7 linked regions of the Homo sapiens genome follow. The protein of the gene in region 6 purifies or fractionates together with the protein of the main gene of each other region. This does not show direct contact. Each region holds a gene or a part of one and is shown on either strand. Other genes may lie near its edges.

Evidence for each region.
Region 1: the proteins of PLCB3 (region 6) and CAMSAP2 fractionate together in Homo sapiens (co-fractionation; one large-scale study listed by BioGRID). This does not show direct contact.
Region 2: the proteins of PLCB3 (region 6) and ROCK1 fractionate together in Homo sapiens (co-fractionation; one large-scale study listed by BioGRID). This does not show direct contact.
Region 3: the proteins of PLCB3 (region 6) and NSUN2 fractionate together in Homo sapiens (co-fractionation; one large-scale study listed by BioGRID). This does not show direct contact.
Region 4: the proteins of PLCB3 (region 6) and NUDT5 fractionate together in Homo sapiens (co-fractionation; one large-scale study listed by BioGRID). This does not show direct contact.
Region 5: the proteins of PLCB3 (region 6) and SMYD3 fractionate together in Homo sapiens (co-fractionation; one large-scale study listed by BioGRID). This does not show direct contact.
Region 7: the proteins of PLCB3 (region 6) and EFL1 fractionate together in Homo sapiens (co-fractionation; one large-scale study listed by BioGRID). This does not show direct contact.

What each region holds. Positions count from the first base shown.
Region 1 is NC_000001.11:200,829,393-200,832,892, reverse strand, and holds part of CAMSAP2 (calmodulin-regulated spectrin-associated protein 2), read right to left. Parts: intron 694-3,500; coding exon 552-693; intron 188-551; coding exon 48-187; intron 1-47. UniProt on the Homo sapiens protein: Key microtubule-organizing protein that specifically binds the minus-end of non-centrosomal microtubules and regulates their dynamics and organization.
Region 2 is NC_000018.10:21,007,314-21,010,813, reverse strand, and holds part of ROCK1 (rho-associated protein kinase 1), read left to right. Parts: intron 1-2,619; coding exon 2,620-2,755; intron 2,756-3,500. UniProt on the Homo sapiens protein: Protein kinase which is a key regulator of the actin cytoskeleton and cell polarity.
Region 3 is NC_000005.10:6,619,545-6,623,044, forward strand, and holds part of NSUN2 (RNA cytosine C(5)-methyltransferase NSUN2), read right to left. Parts: intron 2,557-3,500; coding exon 2,472-2,556; intron 755-2,471; coding exon 562-754; intron 1-561. UniProt on the Homo sapiens protein: RNA cytosine C(5)-methyltransferase that methylates cytosine to 5-methylcytosine (m5C) in various RNAs, such as tRNAs, mRNAs and some long non-coding RNAs (lncRNAs).
Region 4 is NC_000010.11:12,178,892-12,182,391, forward strand, and holds part of NUDT5 (ADP-sugar pyrophosphatase), read right to left. Parts: intron 1,599-3,500; exon of another isoform or gene 1,504-1,598; intron 242-1,503; coding exon 192-241; intron 1-191. UniProt on the Homo sapiens protein: Enzyme that can either act as an ADP-sugar pyrophosphatase in absence of diphosphate or catalyze the synthesis of ATP in presence of diphosphate.
Region 5 is NC_000001.11:245,856,780-245,860,279, forward strand, and holds part of SMYD3 (histone-lysine N-methyltransferase SMYD3), read right to left. Parts: intron 1,892-3,500; coding exon 1,717-1,891; intron 1-1,716. UniProt on the Homo sapiens protein: Histone methyltransferase. Specifically methylates 'Lys-4' of histone H3, inducing di- and tri-methylation, but not monomethylation. Also methylates 'Lys-5' of histone H4.
Region 6 is NC_000011.10:64,261,530-64,264,976, reverse strand, and holds part of PLCB3 (1-phosphatidylinositol 4,5-bisphosphate phosphodiesterase beta-3), read right to left. Parts: intron 3,397-3,447; coding exon 3,312-3,396; intron 3,026-3,311; coding exon 2,901-3,025; intron 2,792-2,900; coding exon of another isoform or gene 2,718-2,791; exon of another isoform or gene 2,611-2,717; intron 2,571-2,610; coding exon 2,416-2,570; intron 2,331-2,415; coding exon 2,169-2,330; intron 1,480-2,168; coding exon 1,380-1,479; intron 1,287-1,379; coding exon 1,182-1,286; intron 957-1,181; coding exon 865-956; intron 27-864; coding exon 1-26. UniProt on the Homo sapiens protein: Catalyzes the production of the second messenger molecules diacylglycerol (DAG) and inositol 1,4,5-trisphosphate (IP3).
Region 7 is NC_000015.10:82,129,733-82,133,734, forward strand, and holds the end of EFL1 (elongation factor-like GTPase 1), read right to left. Parts: intron 830-4,002; coding exon 641-829; 3' UTR 501-640; downstream 1-500. UniProt on the Homo sapiens protein: GTPase involved in the biogenesis of the 60S ribosomal subunit and translational activation of ribosomes.

The sequences.
Region 1 (3,500 bases), on a different chromosome or scaffold from region 6:
AACATATTTTAACAAAGCAAAGGGAAAAAAAGAATAATTTAATTTACCTTTATGGATGAAGCAGCATAGAGCATATCTTCCAGAGTGAAATGGCAACACTGGTTCAAGTATTCTTGGCAAAATTCTTGAATCAGCTGCAGATTATACAGGCTATCAGCCAAAGACATAGTTTCTTTCAAACAAATATCTTCAAATAAGAAAAGAGCAAGGTGGTGACTTTGGATTAATTTGATAATAAATATTTCATATCCATCTTGTAATTAGTACAAATACACAATTCTGGTTAACAAACATACATTTATAAATATAGTAGTCATTATACATTAAGACTTAGAAACCGAGCACTATTTTTTTTTGAACTACCTCCCTCAGAATTATATATAAATGTTCTTTATTTTTAAAAAAAAGTCTTCAGTACTTATTAAATAATATTGTCTTTTTTTTGAGACAGGGTCCCACTCAGTCACCTAGGCTGGAGTGCAAAATAATACTGTCTTAAATATTGGTTACTATCTGTCTACAGTTCAGAAGTATTACAATGGAACACTTACCCTCTAATCTGACAACATCAGGACAGTAAAAATGAATAAGGGCAGCTAATGCACAGCCATCTGTCCCATCCTTCAACAAATTTTCTACCAATGGAATGCAAGGCAGTTGCTTAAGCAATGTTTGCTCTTTCCGATAACGAGCCTACGATATAAAAAAAATACATGAAAATAAATAAGTACCAAATAACGCATAGGAAAAAAATCAGTACTGTAAATTCTAATGTACCAGTAATAAAATAAATCATGAGAAATGAGACCACTCACCAATATTTCTTTTTTTCTAAATAACGCTAGGTATTACCAAAGTTAAATACACGGCAACAATAGCTATAGTTTTGAAGCTCAATACTTAATATAACATACTGCTAATTTACACTAACTGACATTTGGCTTAAATATTTAAGTATAAAAGCATCACAAAACAGATTTTGAACACTTTGTATCCAAATAATCAGTTCTGCTCTTTTGAAGATAATAAAATTCATCTACTTTAATTCAGACTTAATTTAAACTGAAAATTCTTATACGGGAAGAGCAAGAATACTATTCAAGCAGAAAGAGTTATCAAAATGAGGGGGAAGGTAAAAGAATATACTATTCTTAAAAGAAATTTGAGGAACTGGAATAGTATCACCAAGACATTCTGGGTTATTATCTGAATGTTGAGGAAACACAAATAGTTAACAACTTTGAAAGTGAAAAAAAAAAAAACCCTTCCAACTTAGATTTCATTAATAATTGAGCAAGTATACGGGTTCTTGCTCCCCCTCAGAAAAAGAGAAGAAACCTTTGTTTCCTAAAGATTGTTTGGTGTGGCTAGATAGAATTTTTAAAAATAGATCTCTAAAAAATGAGACATGCTGTAATAGTTAAGAGAACAAATTCAGATCCTGGTTCAGATCCTGGTTCTGCCACTTACTAGTTTTGTGATCTTGGACAAGTTACTTAAACTCTCATTTCTCATTTTCCCATCTGTAAACTGGCGTAATAATAGTACCCACTTCATAGAACCACTGGAAGATTAAGTAAGATGATGGACACAAAGTGCTATGCATCCTGCTGGGCACACAGCAAGCAATCAATAAAGGTTAGCTATTATTAGCTGTTAACTCTTCTAAAGCCAAGTAAAATAATGCTGAAGATTTAGTGAATGTACACACGAAAGTATTTTGCTAGCAAAATATATAACATAAATTACTGGTAGTTTTTTTAAGGTTATCAAACTATTTTTTCTTCTAATTCCATCTAAATTGGTCATCTCTATAGTTTAGAATTAAAATATAATTATAAGATAAAACACTTTTGTGAGAATAAAAATAGAAAAATAAAAATTTACTGAAAGAGAACACAACATTTGGTAGTGAAGTTAGATTTCTTTTCAATGCTATCTCTCAGAAAAGCATCAGCATTAATGAAGAAGGAGATACTTATTCCTGGATTTCTCTCACTGGCTACCCAAGGACAAAATTCATGGAACATGTTTTCCTCTTAAAGATTTCTGAAGGTTCTTGTTAATTAGTGCATAATAGACTCCGTATTTAAGAGTACATCCCTAATTCAGGGGGTAACTATATTCAGAAAAAAATTACTTGCAGGTACTATATGGATTCTTTAATTGATTCTGATTTTAACATAATTCTTAGAAAATTCCTCACTTTGCAGCTAAGAAACAGCTTAAAATCAACCATGGGGAGGGAAGAGGAAGGAAGAAAGAAAAAAGAAATCAACCAGTACAGCGGTATCTTCTAGGCTTAAGCTACCGTTCTCACAATTAGTATCTGTTCCAGATCCTTACATGCTTTTCTTTGGTTATCTGGGATAAAAACAGTCTGCCTCTTGGACATCCTCAAAATTGGGCTGGGACTAGTAGTTTGTTTTCAGCCTATGACCTGAATTGGACTAAGCCAAGCACCCAGGGTCATGCAACAAAGAATTGAATTATGTGATTTGTTCTACTCCCTCCTGCAAAGTAGCACTTTTGTACAAGGTATGTGCAAACAGGCACATGTATGTGCACGTGCACACACACACACACACACACAGCTTTATATGACATTAGCAATAAGTATCTATGGTTTAGACTAGACAGAGAATTATGAATGGGATGCCAAAACATTTTCCTAAAGATTGTATTCTAGAAGATATATTAAGTAAACCAACTTTAAATCTTGAGATTATGTCCAGCACTCAGAAGGTTCATCCGCAGTTCATGAAAGAGTCTTTTGTACTTGAACATGCTATTTGCTTTATAAACTTATTGCATGGAAACATGCCCTTTCTTTCTGCAAACTAAGAAGTTTGGCATTTAGAAAGAACCCCCTATATTTTTATATTTCAACATTATGGTATATTTATTTTCTTCTCCTTTTTTTTGTTGTTTGTTTTATTTTTATTTTATTATTATTATTTTTTTTGGAGATAGCGTCTCACTCTGTTACCCAGGCTGGAGTGCAGTGGCACAATCATGGCTCACTGCAGCCTCGACCTCCTGGTCTCAGGTGATTCTCCCACCTCAGCCTTTTGAGTAGGTGAAACCACAAATGTGTACCATTATGCCTGCCTCATTTTTCTATTTTTTGTAGAGATGAGGTTTTGCCAAGTTGCCCAGGCTGGTCTCAAACTCCTGGGATCAAAGGATCCACCTGCCTTGGCCTCTCAAAGTGTGGGATTATGCGCGTGAGCCACCGCACCCGGCCATTATGGTATATTTCTAAATTAGAGTTTTATTATCGAGGATGTAAAATAGTTCTTAAGTGGTTTAACACACCCATCCCCATATTTAAATCTGAAAGATCAATCTTTAAGTCAAATCAGAATTTAATATGGTTTTGGTCCGCTACTGGTGAGGTCACAGAAAACCTTCTGCTTTCTTAATCACACAAAAAGTGAAGTGTCATCTATAATTCAAGCTGAAAAGGAACTAGGTCTGTCAAAAAGATAATTTTTTAA
Region 2 (3,500 bases), on a different chromosome or scaffold from region 6:
AAATAGACCAATCCATAATTATTGTTGGAGACTTCAGCACCCGTAAGAATCACCAAACATAGGAGAACTCAACTACACTGTCAGCTGTCAGAATTTGTTCAACATTTACAGAACCCTCTGCTTAACAGCACAATATGCCTTCTTTTCAAGTGCTTAAGGAACACACACCAAGGTAGACCACATCCCAAGCTATAAAACAAACACATTTGAAAGCACTGAAATCATACAGTTTCCTGACCAAAATGTACAGATGAGAATAACAGAAAAATCTGCAAACACATGGAAAGCAAACAATAAACTTCTAAATAACCCAGAGGTCAAAGAAGAAGTCTCAGTGAAAAAAATACATTGGAATGTTAATTATGTCTCATAAAACTGTTATGGCTCTTTATCTTTACAAAATATTTGAACAATGAAGTGAAAATACATCATCAAAATTTGTGAGATGCTGTTAACATGGTGATGAAGGTTAATTTATAGCACTAAATGCTTACCTTAGAAAAGAGGAAAAGTCTAAAATCAATAATTTAAACTCCTACTTCTGGAAACTAGAATAAGAAGAGTGAAATAAACCCAAAACAAGCAAAAGGAAGGACAAGTAACGATAAGAGCAGAGAACAAGGCAGTTAAAAGCAGAAAAACAATAGAGAAAATCAGTGAAACAAAAAGCTGTGTGAAAAGATCAACAAAATTAACAAACCTCTAGCAAGACTGATAAAGGAAAAAGAGAGGACACAAATTACCAGTATGAGGAATGAAATAGGGCATATACTATAGACCATATAGGTATCAAAAGAATCATAAGGAAATCCTATGAACAGTTCTAAACACAATTAAGACATGTAGATGAAAGGGACTAACTTCTCAAAAATCAAACTATCACAACTCATACAGTGTGAAATAGGTAATTTCAGTAGCCCTATATAAGTGTTAAGGAAAGCGAATCCATACTTTTTAAACTTTTTAGATATATGGATGAAAATAAACCTATGAAAAGAGGTTCACATAATTAGTCATTTGGGAAGTGCAAATTAAAACTATCATGAAATATTACTCCATAACCATGAAAAAAAGTAAGTTTTAAAATTATGTCAATAGCAAACTGGCAAGGATATGGAGAAACTAGATCACTTGGACATTGCAGATGGGGATATAAAATGGTACAGACATTCTGGAAAACCAATTGGCTGTGTTCCTGAAAAACTAAACATGTGCCTACTATGTGACCTAGCAATTGTATTCTTGGGCATGTATTCCAGAAAAATGAAAATGTATATTCTCACAAAAACCTGTATACTAATGTTTATAACAGCTCTATTTGTAATAGCCAAAAACTGAAAACAATCAAAATGTCCTACAGTAGGTGAATGGTTGAACAAACTTCGGTACATTTGTACCATGGAATACTCAGCCACAAGAAGGAATAAACTGTAGATACATACAATACAGAGATGGATTTTAAGGTCTTTATGTTGAGTTAAAAAAAAAAAAAACCTGTCTTGGCCAGGCGCGGTGACTCACGCCTGTAATCCCAGCACTTTGGGAGGCTGAGGCGGGCGGATCACGAGGTCAGGAAATCGAGACCATCCTGGCCAACATGGTGAAACCCCATCTCTATTAAAAATACAAAAAAAAAAAAAAAAAAAAGCCTGTCTCAAAAAGTCATATATTGCATGGTTCCATTTATATAACATTCTCAAAAAGACAAAATTATAGAAATGGAGAACCATTAGTTGCCAGGAGTATGGGTGGTGGGAGGACGGGGATGGGTGTGGCTATAACTAGTGACTGGAAAGAAATTGTTGTGATGACCAGTTCTGTATCTTCGTTGTGGTGGTGCTTACATGAACCTACATATGTGATAAAATGAGAGAATCATACACTCCTTATACCAGTGAGAATTTTCTGATTTTGTTATTGTACTATTGTTATATATAATGTCTCTACTGGGGGAAGCTGAGTGGAAGGGCACTTGGGACCTCTCTGTACTATCTTTGCAACTTTCTTTGAATGTATAATTATCTAAAAATTAACTAAAAGTTAGAATGATAAACTCTTAGAATCAGAAAGACCTTGAATGATTTATGTCCAATTTCTGCTTAAAGATGAGAAAGCCCAGAAACACTGTAAAACAGGTTTCCTAATGTGGAGTCTTAAAAAGTGAAGCATCAAAAACAAGATTTACTGATAGTGGTAACTCAGAAAGGTACATTTTTAAGTTGTGAAAATTTGGGTATTTTAGGCTGGGCACAGTAGCTCATGCCTGTTATCCCAGTACTTTGGGAGGCTGAGGCAGGCGGATCACCTGAGGTCAAGAGTTCAAAACCAGCCTGGCCAACATGGCAAAAGCCGTCTCTACCAAAAATAGAAAAATTAGCTGGACGCAGTGGTGCGTCCCTGTAGTCCCAGCTACAGAAGACAGATTCCCACTGTCTTCTTAAAAGGCAAGCTACTTAGAAAGTTGTATTAGGAGATACTATTTGCGTTTGAAACAGAACATTCATCTTAAGTGTTTGTCTTTTTTTTTTTCTTGTTTTTTGTTTTTAAGAACAAAATACTCACTTGAATGAATGACCAGAGTATTAATCACAGTGGTAACTTTTATCATTATAATTCCAGGGAAATCAAAGAAGAAATCTAGAATCTACAGTGTCTCAGATTGAGAAGGAGAAAATGTTGCTACAGCATAGAATTAATGAGTACCAAAGAAAAGCTGAACAGGAAAATGAGAAGAGAAGAAATGTAGAAAATGAAGGTAAATTGTCACTACTTTTGAAAAATGATAGAATTTCTAACACTGTCATGAGGTTGTCTTTAATTTAGTGTCCATGATACATACATGAAGCTACAATCCTAAGACACTTTATAAGCTAAATAACCCAGGTCTCAGGTTAAATTTATAACATATTAAATAGTAATTAAATTAAATATTAAATTACATATTAAAGTAAATAGTAAGTAGCATTTAACTAGAGTAGTGATTGTCATCATGGTGTGCATACTGGAATCTCCTGGGAAGCTTTAAAGAGTACTGATGCCTAAATCCCAGCGATTCTAATTTAATTGGTCTAGATATGTGGCCTGAGTATCATTATTCTTTACAAGCCCCCTAGGTACTTCTAACAAGCAGCTGCGTCTAAGAACTTCTAAACCAGAATTTCTTGTGTTTTAATGCTTGTGTTACAAATATATTTAAAATACCTTTCTACTCCCATTGATGCAGTAATTTCACTTCCATAAGTTATTTCACGTACATACTCCTACTGCAAACTGATATATACACAAGGCTATTCATTGTAGCATTGTTTAAAATGACAAAAAAAATGCAGTCAATGCTGTATATGAAACATAATGTAATACATATATGAAACATAAAGGTAATGAATGCTGTAATAAATTTTAGTACATCTATATGGTAGAATACTATGTGGCTTATAAAAAATAATAAATCATCTCCTTAAATACGGTTATAAAACAGTCTCTAAGACAGATCTTTAAGT
Region 3 (3,500 bases), on a different chromosome or scaffold from region 6:
AGTATTATTTTATATCTAAACTCTAAATATCTAAAATGTTGATGTATTATCTCAAGAAAGGTATAAAAACACAAGCAAAATGAATTTCTTAAGGGCTTGAACTCCGAAATTTCTTTCATTCAACTAAATAACATAAAATCCAATGTGATTACGTATTATTTTATGACAAAGTTTTTTATATACTGTACTCACTGGAAGAACTAATACAAAATAGTTGGGGTGCACAAATTGTTCCAAGCAATAACATCCTAAAACACACCACAATAAGAGTCTACGATTCTATTTTCCTCTTACGTATTTTCTCTGTTTTGTTTTGTTTTCTCTTTATCTTTCTGCAGGCTATTGCAACCACCCCTTTCTGTTCTTTATCCAGCATCTGCTGTGCTGCTTCTCATTAAGACGTATCTACGTGTCCATCTTTTGGTTTAGGCTCACGCTATCTTTCTCCGCACCCCAAGACTTATGTACAATTGTGTCATATTCATGCACAACTTCATTTTAGTCTCTATTTGACTTGATTTCTTTAGTGGATTTGGGCTTTTTGGCCAATAAGATAAATACCTGCAAGGGACATCACATAAAATTCGATCATAGAAGAGGATCTCTTTCCTGCCGTCCACATCTATCTGGAGCCTGGGTATGCTGGAGGCATCATGGTTGACCACCATGATGCAGGGGCTGCTCAGCCTCTTGGCTTGATGGACGAGCAGGTAGCAGCGCTTGTTGTCCACATCATTCGCAATAACAAATCCCTCTGAAGGCACAGAATTGCAGTGTCAGGTGAAATGGAGCCTAAGTGGAATCACATCCTGAAATATGCGACCTCCAAAGGTCAGCCAGTGAGAAGCAGCAATCCACCAAACTTAAGACCCACAGTCAAGGTTTTCCAGAATTACGTTAAGTGGTTCAAAAAAAGGAACCAGGTGGCTCTGGATGGATTTTATGGACACTCGAATTTTGAAAGCCTCAAAAGTCATCTATTCAACAATTATTCACTTTGTGCCAATTACCATGCCAAAAATGTCTTTTCTGTTATTAGTAACGATTAACTACAAAAAAAAAAGATGAGGAGAAAGGTGTAGAAACAACAAAATCACCTTACAAATGTTTCAAAATCCTGAACACAAGCCGGGACCCTGCTCTGACTGTGAGTCAGGCTCCTAGGGTGGGGCCCCAAGCACCTGAACACGGAAGCTCTTCCCGGGAGGCTCTGCAGGCTGGGAAGTCTACTGGGTGTACCTCTGCTCATCTCTGGTTCTTCTCACACCCCCAGCAAAAAGGCAAATATACCAACAACATGTATGATCAAAGCCACTCTTCACAACAGTATGAAATGCAAAACATCCACAATACAAAAAGGAGAACCTGCTGCTACTGGGACGCCAAGGCTCTTTACTGCCAATGTGGAGAAAACAACTAAAAACAGGGAAAAGTGAAGCAGGCTTTTTAGCCAAGGCATTATCTTTAAACAATGTAAAAAAGAGGATTTCAAAAAACAGACCTAACAAATATGCCTATTAAAACAGAACTAGAGAAGTTTGCCTGAACAAAGATAGGACGAGATGAAAGCTGACTCTAAAACATCACGATGGGTATTTGTTTCCACTTAAGAGAAAGGGGCGTGGTGTCACTATAACAGCTAACATTTCCTGAGCACCTCGCAAGCTACATACTGATTCGTCCCATTTCACATGGGATGTCTAACACTGTAAGTAACTTGCCGATTAGGATTTGAACCCAGGGAGTCTGATGGTAGCTTTTAACTACACACTACTACCCTTCATGTAAGGCAGTAAGTAATAATAATAATAATAATAGTAATAATAATGAACAAAGGTGGGGGAAAGGGGAAATTGTTACTAAAAATTCAAACAGTGAAATCTATCTTCTGTAAGTAGGCTTGATAAAGAAACACCATCTGCAGCCGGGCGTGGTGGCTCACACCTGTAATCCCAGCACTTTGGGAGGCCAAGGCGGGCGGATCACGAGGTCAGGAGATCGAGACCATCCTGGCTAACATGGTGAAACCCCGTCTCTACTAAAAATACAAAAAATTACCCGGGCATGGTGGCGGGCACCTGTAGTCCCAGCTACTCGAGAGGCTGAGGCAGGAGAATGGCGTGAACCCAGGAGGTGGAACTTGCAGTGAGCCAACATCACGCCACTGCACTCCAGCCTGGGCAACAGAGTGAGACTCCATCTCAAAAAAAAAAAAAAGAAATGCCATTCGTTTTTATAGAAAACACACATAATTCTAAAATAAAGCTCCCCCATGGTATGAGTGTGTTTGTTTGAGTACTACTGACGGTGGTAGGCAAGATGTCCAGTTCTACTTCCGGTAGACGGAAAACCCAACTGCTTGTCATAGGAGACTTTAGAGCCAAATTAGCAGGCAAAGTTAGAGTCTTTTCCTTGTCTACAATCTGCCAAAGTGGCATTCCTACCATTTTGAACACAAGTCCAATGCATACCTGGAAAGGGGACATTCATGTCGGCATGTAGCATTTCAATTAACTGTGTGGTCTTTGAGCCAGGTGCTGCACACATATCTAAGATCTATTAACAAAGCAAGAAACTGTTTCATGTTTTTAAAAAACCAAATATTCTACATTTAATTTAAAGCAATTCTAGTTTTTCAATTTCTAGTCCAAGATCTAAATATACTTCTTTACAGAGTCTATAGCATGACATAATTTACTTTTAGGGATTCTACACTGCCCCAAAATCACAGAATGATATAGGTACAGTCTCCAAAGAGGATGGGAGGAGAATGAAACTGTAAGCCAGAGAGACTAAATATAGAGATGAACAAGTAAGAATCATGAAAACATAATGCTAAGGAACAGAGCTACCTAGACTCAAATCTCAGCTCAGCCAGTTAACAGCTCCGTAACCTCAGTTCAAGTACTTCTCCTTGCTTCCTTTTCCTCATCTGGAAAAATGGAGATGGTGACAGTATCTGCCCTTAGAGGGTTGTGTGAATGATAAAGCCAACTAATTCACCTAAAAAACACAGAGCAAGGCCAGGCACAGTGGCTCACACCTGTAATCCCAGCACTTTGGAAGGCCAAGGCAGGCGGATCGCCTGAGGTCGGGAGTTCGAGACCAGCCTGACCAACATGGAGAAACCCCGTCTCTACTAAAAATACAAAATTAGCAGGGTGTGGTGGTGCGCACCTGTAATCCCGGCTACTTGGGAGACTGAGGCAGGAGAATTGCCTGAACTCAGGAGGCGGAGGTTGCAGTGAGCCAAGATCGCGCCACTGCACTCCAGCCTGGACAACAAGAGTGAAACTCCATCTCAAAAAAAAAAAAAAGAAAAGAAAAAAGAGCACAGAGTAATGCTTGCCATACAATGAGCTCTCAATACATGTTCACTATCATTTTCAACCTAATTTAGCCAATCACCATCACTGAAGACAATCCATATGGTAAACAAATCAGTAAAACTAAAGGGGAGAAAATTTTCTAAACCATAAAAATTAAGTAGGACAAAAAAG
Region 4 (3,500 bases), on a different chromosome or scaffold from region 6:
GGCTTAGATAACAGAAGCCAGAAGTTACTTATAAAGAAAGCTTAATTTCGTTACATAGTATGGCAAAACCTAAGCGGAGATTTAAAGACACAACATCCTAATAGAAGTTAACTTGGTTCCATTGAAAACCCTCTTACGATCACAAGTGCTAACTTCCTTTCTAAAGGGTTGGAATAGGTTTGCACTCCTACCATCCGCAGTCTGCTCTTTCCTGGTTGTACGTTTCACTGATTCCCAAGTTCTGTTCAGGCAGAGAAGAAAAAAAAGTCATTAGTGCTACAGAAGAGAATTTTCTTAGGTTTTCTCTGTACAACCAGAACTTCTTAAATGCAATGCATGCAAATGTACTCATGATACTGGTCAAGAAGACCACAGCAATAAACGTCTGCATTAAAGAAGCTAATTCTGCTTTCCTATAGCTTCTGAAAATTAACAACGAAAACTCTTGCCACCCTACACCTCACCTTCTGGGTGCCCCCGAAACAGAAAGCCTGCTAAGCATGTGAGCTGCCGCTTTCTCAGAAAACTTTAGTTTGGATCCTATGTCTCTGGGCAAGGAGCACAGCCAGTGACAGATTAATAAGCAGGTAATGCAAATGAAGCCATAGGAAAAGACTCACCCCGTCTCTAGGAACAAAAGCTACTATGGACAACGTGAACTATTGAGATTTTCATATCATTTTGATTTTTAAAATATGTGACCTAAAACACACAATTTAAGAAGGTAGAACCTTCCCATTTATTAATGGAAGAATTATTAAATGTAGGCAAGTGCCCCTACTTTGCATGTGTGAGATCTTATCTAGAAAAAGTGGGCTGAGTAACAGCACAGTCCTGCTCTCTTGTATGGCTTTATTCCTGGTTAGCTATTGGTTTCTGACTGTTACCCAACTCAGCTTTTGGGTAACATCTGTGCTATTCTACTTTCTGGCCTTGGAACATGGGGCACAGTTGTACAGGAAACCCAGTTACTGACACAATTATGCAGTTTAAAGGGGCGAGGCATAAAAGGAACATTCTCCCTTCACTCTCTTCTCCCTACAACAGAAAAAAGCAGTGGTAAGAGACCAGAGTGGAGAAGCAAACAATTTTAGGATCTCTTTTAAAGGAAGTGAAACATGTGGGTGGCTCTGGGGCTTGGGATAAAAAGGAGTTACCACCTGCATCTCGATAGTAAGAGCTGCAAGATATCCTCCTCGGAACCCTCCTGCTCATGCTTCCTATCCGGCTGTCCTTAAAATTTGGACCTTGTCATATTTTCATTAAAATTGTTCAAATATTTAATTTGCTTTTTAAAAAACAAAACAAAAAGACTGTCTGGAAATTGTAGGTCTTTCAGCATTGTACCCAAATTCCGAAGGCCAAATATGTCAAAATGAACACAGGAAAATCAAACAGACTTCTATGACAACTCACAGCAGCCCAACATTCCTGTTAGTAGCAAGGAGCTGACCAACAAGCAATGCTGGTAAGTAAATCATACAGATTGCAAGAGATGAACACCTTTTGGCATAGCTCTCTCTGCTGCCTCCTAAGGTTAGTCCTAAAGACTGAAGAAGACAGTGCTGGGAAAAGCACTGAAGGTCCCATCCCAAACACTAGGAATAAGGGAAACAAAAAGAGGAGCATCATTATCGTGGTTAAGGTGAAGGAAACAAGCAGTAACGAGCCATAAATCACCAGCAATAAAACAGAAACGCATTGATAAGAAATCTCGGAATAAGATTGCCCAGTGAGAGCTCCAACAACTTCAAAGGGCCTGTGAGATGCACAGCTGACTGGAAGTCAGCTCTTCGTCTCTACTTGCCCGCCAGCTAAGCCCAGAGCTCCAGCCTCCCTGAGGCTCTTCCCTCCTTTGTAAAAAGCAGGAATGAGTATGTTTTCTCCAAAACCTCTTCTAGCTTTAGGATTCTGCTTCCAGTGAGATCATCCTATTCCTAGTCTTCTTTGTTATGGAAAAGCCTGTTGGCCTTCCTCCCTCTAGTTCACCAACACAAGAGGCGGGAGGGTCAGAGGGTGACTTCGGCACTGTCTTGAATGTCAATAGACACAACACTACTGGAATATTTTTATATTTCTAAAATTAACCCCACATCCCCTTTCATGAATGAGACGGTGGAACATAGGATTCTCTAGCTGCTATTTTATCTCTTAGACTCGGCCCTTCATATCCGTGGGTTCTGCATTCATGGATTCAACCAACCACCCATTGAAAATATTTAGGAAAAAAATTGCATCTATACTGAACAGGTCCACACTTTTTCTTGCCATTATTCCCTAAACAATAGAGTACGACTGTTGACACAGCATTTGCATTGTATTAGGTGCTGTGATTACTCTAGAGATGAAGTGCGTGGGAGGATGTGCATAGGTTAGAGGCAAATACATACTGAGTATCTGCATTTTCATATCAGGGACTTCAGCATCTGTGGATTTTGGTATCTGCAGGGGGTCCTGGAACCAACCCCGACAGACACCAAGTGACAGCTGTACAGGTTGAGTATTCCTTACCCGAAACGAGGGGCCGGAAGTGTTTCAGAGTTTGGTTTTTCAGATTTTGAAATATTTGCCTTACCCTCTGGGTGTCATGCAGGCCTTTTTGACATTTTGAACAGTATCTTTACCCCACAGAGCAGGAAATAAGCCAAAGAACCCCACAATGAGTCATGCACATAGGTCTCAGCCCTGTGTAGGGTGTTGTGGGGAACTGCTGCTGGGCATCCGGTCTGCACACATGCCATTTCATGACCCTCTGTGGGAGTACCTGCAGAGGGAAGTCGCCGTGTGCGTGCAAAGGATATATCGGGCCGGGTGTGGTGGCTCACGCCTGAAACCCCAGCACTTTGGGAGGCCAAGGTAGGAGGACTGCTTGAGTTCAGGGGTTCGAGACCAGCCTGGGCAACATAGTGAGACTCTGTCTCTACTAAAAAAATAAAAATTAAATAAATTTAAAAAAAAAGGATATGGCCGGATGCGGTGGCTCACGACTGTAGTCCTAGCACTTTGGGAGGCCAAGGTGGGTGGATCACCTGAGGTCAGGAGTTTCAGACCATCCTGGCCAACAACACTGCCTCTACTAAAAATACAAAAATCAGCCAGGCCCAGTGGCATGCACCTCTAGTCCCAGCTACTCGAGTGGCTGAGATAGAATTGCTAGAACCAGGGAGGTAGAGGTTGCAGTGAGCTGAGACCACACCATTGCACTCTAGCCTGGGCAACAGAACAAGACTCTGTCTCAGGGTAAAAAAAAAAAAAAAGAAGGATATAGCTGAGCTGAAGGGGAGGGTTCCTTTTCCCCTGGGGGGACACTGAATGTCTGTGTTGTATGCCTGTGTTCTGACTGCAGCCTGTCACACAGAGTCAGGTGTGGAATTCTCCAGCTGGGGCATCATGTTGGCAATGAAAAGGTTTTGGATTTTGCAGCATTTTGAATTTCAGATTTTCAGATTAGGGCTGCTCAACCTGTACACGCAGGCTTTTATATCAGGTCAGAGATAACA
Region 5 (3,500 bases), on a different chromosome or scaffold from region 6:
TCAGTGCAGCGCTAGCCAAGAGTGAGGAACCAGCAGCTGCTGTTGGGGGCCTGGAGAAAGAAGGGTATTTTTCAGTCTGCATCTTTTGGATGGAGTTTATCCACTCACCCAGAGGCTGTTTGGCTTCCTCAGAGCAAGCCCTGGAGTTCAGAGAGGTAACGCCAACCATCTGACCTGCCTCTTTTTGCAACACTAAGGCTCAGAGAGGAAGCCTTATCTCTTTGAATGCGATTCGTATTTTCCGAGAACCCACAAGATCGATCACTCTGAGCAGGCATTTCACTGCTCATGGGAAAGTCTACAGTCTCAGCCCTCAAGCCAATCCCTCATACATTTGATTAAAGCTGACTCACAGTCTGGATTCCAAAGCTGTTCACCCACAGGCAGTGGAGGAAACCATCTACAGAAGTCCCGAAAACATGCTCAGGGTCAGGCTGGTGGCACTGGCTGGCCAGGGACCTCTGCCATCCGCCTGGCTGGTGGAGCCTCTGCCGTCTTCGGGGTCCTTGTGGACTGCACCAAGCTCCTGGCTCACGCCTGGCTTCCTGACCAAACACCTCATTTCTGGTTTACTACCTTTGTCCAAACAAATATCCTAGACCCTGGACTCACTTCTGTTCTTATGTTGACCCTGGGAAATTCCTCTCCCTCTAGCGGGAACAGGAAGTACCCTGGACTCTCACGTTTCCACCTGCTCCTCTTCGCTTACAGCCATTCCCTGCCTGTTGTCCTACGTTGCCCCTTTGGGCTGACATGGTATTTGCACAGTCTGCAAAGCTGGGAAATTAAAGATCTGCCCAGGTTGGAGCCCCTGTTCTCCAGGGACCTCCTCCCTCTGCCATCGCTCCTGGTCACAGGTGCTTTCGAGGTACCTTCCCGCCAGCAACCTTGTTCTGTGCTAGAGACTGAGCCATTCCCACCTCAGATTATGGTCCACATGTCTCCGTGCCCTTCCCCTTGGGCTGCTCTCCGTCTCACCTTCTAGAATTATGTTCTCAGCCGACTGCAAATCAGGGTGCAGCATCCACCAGCGCCTAACTCTCAGCAGTTCAACACTACCCCCTTCAATGCTTTTCTGAGTTATAAAAACATCTCAGGGCAAAACACCTACTGGTCTCCAGGAGCTGAGATCAGTCAAGAAGCAATTACCTATAGTTCCTTCACCTGACTCAAGGAGAAGCTGAGGCAGGGCCGTCTCCCTGCTGTCCTCCCTGGCTCACAAGGTGATTATGAAGGCAAATGATTCAACTGAAAGCATAAATCCTGAGAGAGATAAAGGACCATTCTTACTGTCAGCCAGACCAAGGGCCCCATATGGCCATCCTCACCTGGACCAGCAGAGGCTCATGACACAGCCTCTCAAGCTAGGTCTGAGCCTGCGTTCCTCTACAGCTCCCCCACCACCCTGAGCCCGTCTTTGTCACTGCAAGCGCCACATCGTATTGTAATCATCTGCTCCAGATAGAGACAGCATCTAATTAGTTTCTGTACACCCACGGTGTCTGACACATGGAAGGAACTTTACAAATGATGAATGAATGCATAAGTGAATGAACAAGAGGAGTGAATAAAATAAGACTTGGTTTTAAACAATGGTTGAGAAGCAGCTGGAAATGCTCCATGCAAAGTAGTAATCAGAATGACTTCACAACATGGATCCTTTGCCCAACGTGAAGACGTCCTAGCCCTTATGTCAGCCCTCTCCCTGGGACTTGCCTGTATGGCTCCATGGTCCGAGTACCATAGAACAAGGCTTCCTCCAACAGGCCGAGGTTGATGCAGGCATCCATGGCGCAGTCGAGCACCTTCAGCTGGTAGATGTTGATATCGGGAAGCCGTTCAGAATTGCTGCTTATGATTGCCTGGCACATGGCCAGAACCTGCTCCCACTCTGTTATTAACCTTAGTTAAGGATTCATTGTCTTCATCAAGAAAAAAACAAACAAAATTAGATTCTCTAAAAGGCTAAAGAGCTCCCAAGCACAGGAGCGAGGGAAGCACCCGTTATTTTTCACAGATGAGCTGCCTGAAAACACACTTGAGAAGCAAAAGCACAGAAGAGGCATCTCAGTGAAGTGAATTCTGTTTACATCAACAAACTATCTCGTAACCAGGCCTGTGCTTTGGAGTTTTAAAACTTCCAAAGACCTGTTCTTGCTTCATACTCCTAGATGTGTTCTCTTTAAATCTAGTCATAAATAAATGCAGTCCTTTATTAAATTGGACTAAAGATTAAGTTAATTCGATTTTAAATTATTTACTCTGTTAGCTTCTGTTTAAAAACTGTTTGAAATTAAAGATGCTTTAGAGAGATTCCTTTTTCAAAAGGAAGAGCTCATGTTTGCTTCTGTGTTACCTGAGTTTTGGGCATACATGAACCCAAAAACTCACACAACCCACAGGCACACACTAGGTGGAGCAATTTGAAGACATAGATTTCCACTGGGTCTCATTTTTTCCGATTATAAAGCAACAGTGACCCCAGCCTGTACTTAACCAAATACATTAAAATATGTTATTTTAAACCCCCAAAATAAGAGACAGTATTAGGAACATGGCTTATGCACATCAATTGCTGGCAAGGGAAACGATGCTTTAAAAAGGATGGGGAGAAGACTCAATGTCCACTTCTCAGTAACTGCCTTTCTGATTAACCATGAGTCAGTAACTTCATCTCATGTAGCCTTGGAGTGACTTCGCTTTTTAAAACTGATATTCCCTGTCTTACAGAGGCAGTCAGAGGACTGAGGACATGGTTTATGGAGCGTAATTTTAATCCCTCCCCAGTGAATTCTCTGGGAAACACAGCGAAGGCCAGAGTGCAGGACCCTGGGACCTCGCAGTTTCTTCACTGTGCGGTGTGTTAGGCGAGCTGGAGACCAAGGAGGGTGCAGGACTGGGACTGGTCCTTCTCTCACTCCTGTCTCACCTTCACCCAGTGGAGCTCCAAATTCATCTGCTTCATATGTTGTCATTCCAGTAGGGTGAAAAGGTTTGAAGATCAGAAATGGCAGCCTAGCCTTTGACTGTAGTAAAGCTAGATTCAGATCTAATCGAGTCCTGTCATTTATCAGAGTTGAGGTTCTGAGGAAGTCAAAGTGCTTAATGATAGGCCAGAAATAGAAATGACTCACGTCAACGTAAGAATGAGTAATATATTGTATGTAAAATGACACAGTTCATGATGTGTCCTCTCATGAGCCAGGGAGAGTTCCAGGTGTCAGAGACACAGTGGGGAACATTTCGTGGCATGCACAAAGCACATGCTACACAAGCATTAGTGCCTTCCACCTTCCCTCTGTGACATGACCTCTGAGCCTGACTGGGCTTAAAGAAAGTGGTTCAGTGGACTGAGTTTGACTGAACTCAGTGCCCCCTTCGTGCCCCCACACCCCTCCCACTCCCACATGACCTGGTCCCTTTACAATCCATGCTCTCTGTGCCATCCCCTGCCCCCAATTCAAAACCCTCTTCACTGAGGTCCTAACAGAGCACGCCCA
Region 6 (3,447 bases):
TGGCACGTCTCTTGGCCAGCCTGAGCCTATAGGGAGAAAGGAGAATGCTCTTTTCAGAAATGCTGTTCCCTCCAGACCCTTCTGTCCTCTACCACCTCCTGGGTCCCCTAGCACCCCTGTCAGCCTCCCTTAGTCCAAGCCACTGCTGGACTGCTCTGTAACAGGAGGCTGTCTGCATGAGAAGAGCTATAAATCAAGCCTTTCTAAACCCCTTTTCCACATGGGCTGTGGGGAAGATAACATAATGCCAGCCCACTGCATGTGCTCAGTAACTCCCAGATTGTTCTGGAAAGGCCTGGCCCAGCCCCAAGCCTCCTCTCCTCCCCTGCCTGTGTCCCCCAGCCTTGCCTACAGTCGCTCATTTTCCTTGCTGCTGAGCTCCTGATTAAATCAACAGAGGACTCAACCGCAGAGTGGGCACCAGCCTCTCCGCTAACAGCTCCAGGCAGCCCTAATTGCAGTCATCTCTCCCCGCCCGCCTGCCGCAGGCCCTGGGGGGACTGGATCTGGAAGCGCAGGTGAACCTCCGTGCCTGACCCCTCCCCACGGAAGCCACTGCCCTCCTCATGACTCCCAGGACACCACGTCTGAACAGCTTCTGTGGCTTCGCACTGCCCTGATGAAGTGGCTGAGACCCCTGTACCCCCACTCCAAGCCTACATGGAGCTGGAGGAATTCCAGCCCAGGTGTGACCTGAAGGCCTCCTGAATGCAAATGGGTGGTTTTCATCTCCTCAAAATCCCAGGGCTGCCAAGCCTACTGCGCTAGAGAGACCAGAAGCCCCCTCCTCATGTGGCCACAGCAGTCATGTCCAGCGGCCCCCTGGGTCACAGTGAGCCTGAGCCCTGCCCTGCCCCGGCTCACCTCACTCTCCCCAATGAGGGCGGCCAGCTGCCGGGCCCTCTGGTCCATCAGGCTGACGTGCTTAATGGGGTTGATCAGGGCCTCCGCATAGTCTGGGGGGAGGCAGAAGGCCAAGGTCTCAGAGACAGAGCCCCCAGGCCACCCCCACCCGCCACCTCTGGTCTCAATGAGGAATTCCAGAGCTTGTCCTCAGATCTGTTCCCTACTCAGTTCCCTACTCAGTCGGGGCCATCCAGCTCGGCCACTCCCAGGCCCTGGGGGTGGCCCTTGTCCCTCACACTCCCTGGCCAGGCAGGCCCCGCCCACCCCCAGCTCACCCTGGTGGTCGTCAGGAATGTAGTCCGAGGCTTCGGTGTAGATGAGCAGGGCCGGCAGGCACAGCGGTTGGTTGGCCTCGTTCCGCAGGCAGACGTAGTGGTATCCTGGGTGGTCAGGAAGGCAACGTTGGGTTGCTGGGCCAGGTGGGGGCCCTACCCACTGCCCGCTGTGCTGCCCAGAGCCCACCAAGGCCTCACCGGAGCGGATGGCAGAGACAGGCAGGATCCGGTGCCCTACGAATTTACCCCCCTCCTCAAAGGCTGCAATGCGAAGTGAAGCCAGCGTGGGCAGCACCACCTGTGGGCCAGACTGGAGCTGAGCCACAGGGCTGACCCTGGGCCACTGTGGCTACCAGGCCACAGCTAACCACAGCCATCAAAGCTTAACAAAGCAGACCTTCAGACGAGCTGACCTACTGACCATCAGTCACCATTGCCACTAAGCTGATGGCTGACCCCACTTCCATGTCCTGGCCTAATGGATGACTGCAGCCATCAGGACCCTGAGGCAAGATGACAGGCAGCCAGGCCCCTCCAGGGCCCCCACAGACAGTTCTGGTCATTGCCAGTTTAGAAACGGGAGTGAGTCATGAGCAGGAAACCAAGAACACACATGCCCAGGCTGGGAGCAGAGGCCGCGTCCATGCAGGGCCGTGCGGGGTGCTGAAGAGCGGATATGAGCTTGGGGTTGTGACCTCAGCTCCTGCCTCGGAGACAGGGTAGGCTGTGTCCACTCCTCGCAGGGGACACAAGACGTCTAGCTGACACCCCCCAACCCCCATCTCACCTTCTCACCCTGGTCTCTTACCCTAAGGAGGGCAGGGAGACTGACGCTCGGACAGGCAGGTCCTGGGGGACCCATGGCACCCCCCACTTTCTGATCCCCAGTCGCCAACGGTGTGCCTGGTTCCTGTTCTCCCACCTGAGAGTCGGGGCGGTCTGGGCTGGATCTGCCTGTGCCTGGGCGGGTGCAGGGGCCAGGCTCACCTTGGGGAAGTCGAAGGGCTCTTCGTCCCACACGGGGTTGAACGAGTTCCCCTGAGAGGTCCGGGTGCGGTACTTGCGCCGCGTATCAACAGGGAGGCCAAACATGTCCACCTCCACGTAGATGCCCACCTTCCTGTCGGACAGGAACTGCCCTGAGATCACCTGGGGGTGGGCCAAGGAGGGTGAGGCGGATGCTGAGAGTCCTGCCCCCAGGACACCCCTGGCCTGAGCCGCCCGCAAGCCCCACCTTGACCCGCAAGGCATTGGCCACGATGCCATCCACGATGACCTCAGTGAAGGGGTCGAAGGACTTGTCCGGCCGCCGCATGAACTCCGGCTTGAGCAGGTACCCGCTGCGCCCGTTGTACTCAAAAACGCCCGCGTTGAGCTGCATCGCCACATCTGGGGTGCCACGGGCACGTCGAGCAGGGGCAGGGATCAGGCAGGACGGTGCCATGTGGGGAATGGGAGATCATCAGGTCAGATGGCATCCAAGGTCCAGGGTCAGGGGCGGGCTCAAATGGCATCAGGGTCCGGATCCAGGACAGATCAGACAGGGGAGGGGTCTGGTATCAGCCAAGGGCAGGAGGCGGGGTGAGTCGGGAGCTGGGTTCCCCTGGGATCTGGGATGAGACAGGGTCAGAGGTCCATTCAGGCAAGACCAGCAGGATCGTGGGTCAGAAGTCAGTAAGACTGAGGGTCGGGGTCAAGATGGAGGGGGCCAGGGCTCACCGAGGGTCTGGAAGTTGAGCGCAACAAGCTGGCACCCTACGTTCCAGAAGAGCTGGGGCATGTAGTTGGAGGAGTCCACGCGGGTGCCCTTGGGGTAGATGCGGCTGAGCTGCTGCTTGTTGTATCTGAGATTGGTGGTCAGGGGCCACACAGGTGCCAGGGCCCACCCCATCAGCCTCCACCTCCGGCCTCAGCCAGGTGCTCCTGTGACCCCCACACCCGGCCTCTGTTTCTTAGCCTAGCCATGCCCCCTGAGACTGCCTGGATCTGCCCAAGCCCCAGGCCAGGGTGCAGGAGGGCCGCCGGAGGGCCAGCACCCTGTGCAGGTGGCATATGTGGGGACAGAACACCGGAGCCGGCCTCCGAGCGCCCCACCCTGGCCTGCCCGCCCACAGCACCTTCAAAGGATACTCCACAAACTCCATGGGGCTCTTGGTCAGTTGCTCCATGGCCTTGGTCTCCACAAAGGACGACATCTCGAAGCATTTGTTCCTCTCTTAGGGGTGAGCCAAGAAAGGGCGTCAGACCTGGCAGGGCTGAGCTGGGC
Region 7 (4,002 bases), on a different chromosome or scaffold from region 6:
AATGATAAAATTTATGAGTGGGTGTAAAAGCAGAAGATTTACAGGCTAACTATTGAACATGATACTGTTTTGCTAGACAACACCATAAGATGGATGAGCTGTAACAGTGACTTGGTTTAACTAAAAAGCAGCTGCTCTCTCAAGTATGCGGTCTCTCCAAACAATGTTAAATGCTCTGATTCACTGATTAAATATGAAATGTTTCCACTCCGAAATTCACACATGATGTTTATGTGGAGGATGTACTCAGAATTATGACACTGTGATGACAGGCAGAGACAGTGTGAGCCCCGGAGTGGCCGCTCAGTGCAGAGGAGACTGCCCACTGTGGGTCTGCACATCACCTCCCCACCACCAAGAGGGTAGCCCTGACCACACGTCTTACTGCTGGGGGTTATACACAGGGCAGTCATAAATCATCACTGCAATATTTATAACTTCTTGCCTTGAACCAGAACCAATTAAAAACACACTTGGAAAACATGTTCTCTAACATCCTCTTTAAAATATTTATATGGATCAACTTTATTGAAAGTGAATAAACAGAGATAATGTGGCAAAAAGAAATTTTCCCAATATTAAACCCTTGATGATACTTTTAAATTCACTATAAGGAAAAGAATCCACCAGTAGTAGGTAGCTACTTATTTTTGCTGAGTGTCCTCTGCTTTTCTGCATGCTCCACAATCTTTTCTTCCACATAAAGCCCCTTCCGCTTTCGTACTGCGTTCATGTACTTCCGGGCTTGGTTCTCAGAGTCAGCCTTCTCCCCAAAGTGCAAGTATTCCTCCTCAGTAGTTGGCACCCAGAAGGGGTCACTGGGAATGATCTTGTAAAAGAAGATGACAGAATGTGCAAGGTTAGGCATTTTTAATTTCAAACCTTATTCACTGAGCTCCCCAATTTATATAGTCTTAGCTAATGAAAAAAAGTTAGGCAATGAACAGCTAAGCTTGCTAGGAATGGTAATAAGTATGAAGAATCGGCAGGGTGTGGTGGCTCACGCCTATAGTCCTAGCACTTTGGGAGCCAAGGCAGGTGGATTGCCTGAGCTCAGAAGTTCGAGACCGGCCTGGACAACATGGTGAAACCCCGTCTCTACTAAAATACAACAACAACAACAACAACAAAAATTAGCTGGGTGGGGCGGCATGTGCCTGTAGTCCCTGCTACTAGGGAGGCTGAGGCAGAAGAATCACTTGAACTCGGGAGGCAGAAGTTGCAGTGAGCTGAGATCATGCCACTGCACTCCAGCCTGGGCGACAGAGTGAGGCTCCAACTTAAAAAGAAAAAAAAAAGTATGAAGAATCATGGGAGGTGTGAACAAATGGAAGTAGATTCAACAAAACTTGTAACATACATTATTATTCTTTGCTCCTAGCGCCAGTTCATAACACTAAGGAAGAAAGAAAACTATTAATTTTTCATAATATAATTTTTAAAAGCTTTCATTTTTGCTAGGATATATCTGAATGTTAATGTCTTTGCCATCAATATTTTGCCTTTGTCCTCAACCTCAACAAAGATCAACACATGTAACTACACTCTTATTATTATTACATATATTTTTTTATTTAAGAGACAGAGTTCTGCTCTGTTGCCCAGGCTGGAGGGCAGTGGTGCAATCATACTCACTGTAGCCTCAATCTCCTGGGCTCAAGTGATCCTCCTCCCTTGACCTCCCAAGCAGCTAGGATTACAGGTGCATGCCACCATGCCCAGCTAATTTTTAATTTTTTTTCTGGAGGTGGTGGGTGCATGACATTGTGAATGGGAAAAATGCAGCAAAATGTTTATTTAAAATGTTCAAGTTTGGGGGAGGCTGAGGCAGGTGGATCATCTGAGGTCAGGAGTTTGAGACCAGCCTGACCAACATGGAGAAACCCTGTCTCTACTAAAAATACAAAAAATTAGCCAGGCTTGATGGCGCATGCCTGTAATCCCAGCTACTTGGGAGGCTGAGGCAGGAGAATCTCTTGAACCCAGGAGGTGGAGGTTGTGGTGAGCCAAGATCACACCATTGCACTCCAGCCTGGGCAACAAGAGTGAAACTCTGTCTCAAAAGAAAAAAAAAAGTTCAATTTTATGTTGTATGAATTTCACCTCAGTACATTATTTTTAAAAAGAGAGACTTAAAGAAATTTCCCTGAATACAGAATACGGCACAGAGAGATGGAGATTAAAAAAAAAGTCTCAAAGGAAAGTCAAGAGCCATCAAGTATGTATAGGGTATATCTAACAGGAGTTCTAAAACCAAAAAACAGAGAACAGGATGAGAGTCTTCAGATGGAAAAACCTCACTGAGTCTGGACCAAGATAATAAAATAATCCACCCCTTGTGACAGTGTTGAAATGCTGGAAATCTGTGGGCACCTGCATCTCCTGAGGCTCGATTCTGACCCACTAGACACTATAGAATGGGAGGTGTGAGCCACAACTGTGCTTCTTGCTCTTGAACAAAGGTTGGAAACAAAGCAGCTGCCTGTGTCCTGGTGCTGAGGCAGGTACAGAGAAAATCAGAGAGAAAAGCCAGATCTAGAGAAGAACATGAATCAGACCAACGAGACGCTTCGCATCAGCAACAGCAGTTGCTGGGACACAATGAAGTCCTTCAGAGTGCTAAGGAGCCTCAGTGTGAGCCTACACGTCTTTATCTAGTTAAATAAACCATTATCAGCGAACCAAAAAAAGCCTCTGTTGGACAGACTTTAAAACATATTACCTCTCATGGACACTCAACAAAAGAACTAGAAATATCCTTTCAAAAAAGAGTCCCCGGAAGGAAAAGGCAGACAGTAGAAGTGAGAGCAGCCAGGGGGCACAGAGGCATTATCAGCACTAGAGTAATAACTCTGGTGGGTGACAGCAAGTCTAAGGAGCGTCTCGAAGTGGGAGCCCAGTTAGAGGTTGGGCAACAAGGGGCAGAAAAGGAGACAAGGTCCAGGAATTGGGGGGGGGGGGGGGTAGGCAGAGTGGCAGACAAGGGCGAATGGATGGAATTTAGACGAGAAACGGCAGTTAAGAAGGAGGAGTGGGGAGGAAGCTCAGTCCTGTGGACTTGGTCATCTGAGGGGGTTCTTCTGGGTCAGAGGGTTTGTGCTATAATTTTGTGGGCACAACAGTCCCAGAGACTCAATTCTGATTCACCAGCCACTGGGCCTAGGATAGAAAGGCTCATTCCAGATCATTCACCAGCAAACAATGTCAACACGATACCAGTAGGGCTGAGTCAGTATGGGCTCAGGGCCTGGGCAGGAGGAAGGGAGGGAAAGTGGTTGCCACTCAAAACAGCCTGACTGGTCAAAAGCCACCCACCCAGGGTGAGGGTAGGTGTAGCTATGTAGGGGGAGCATGAGGGAGCCTGTGGTGATGGAACAATTCTGTATCTTGATTACATAAAGCTACATATGTAATACACTTTTATAGCACTAAAGACACACAAACTCCCATGAATATACAGAGCAGAAGAAAGGGAGCCTGCATCTTTGATGGTGTCCCTGAGCCATGGTACCAGCCCTACTTGCTTAAACAATTACTATTCTGGCATTATGGTTCTTGCGGCTGAAAACACTCATAATCTATCAACTGATACAGGGTTGTTGTGAAGACTGAAGAAGATATTATATGAAAGTCATATGGTAAAGCACCTGGCATATCCTAGATTTGTCTGGCTCCAAAGCCTGCCCTTTGCCATGTTTGCAGACTGCCATGAAGACTGAGTTTATCCAAACATAAATTGCACAATGGTACTAGCTAAGTCAAGTGCATTTATTATAACTGGTGAAACCTGAACAAGTGCTATGGGTGTATCAATGTCAATGTACTGTAAGAGATGTTAACATTGGGGAAGGAGGGGTGAATGGCACATAGGACCTCCTTGTACATATTTTTTGGTAACTTCCTATGGAAAAAAACTATTGTAATTTTTTTAACAAATTCTTTTTAAGACACCCGGCCACAAGTTATAATTCTCTTTTGTCTGGAGGTAAAATTCTCAACATT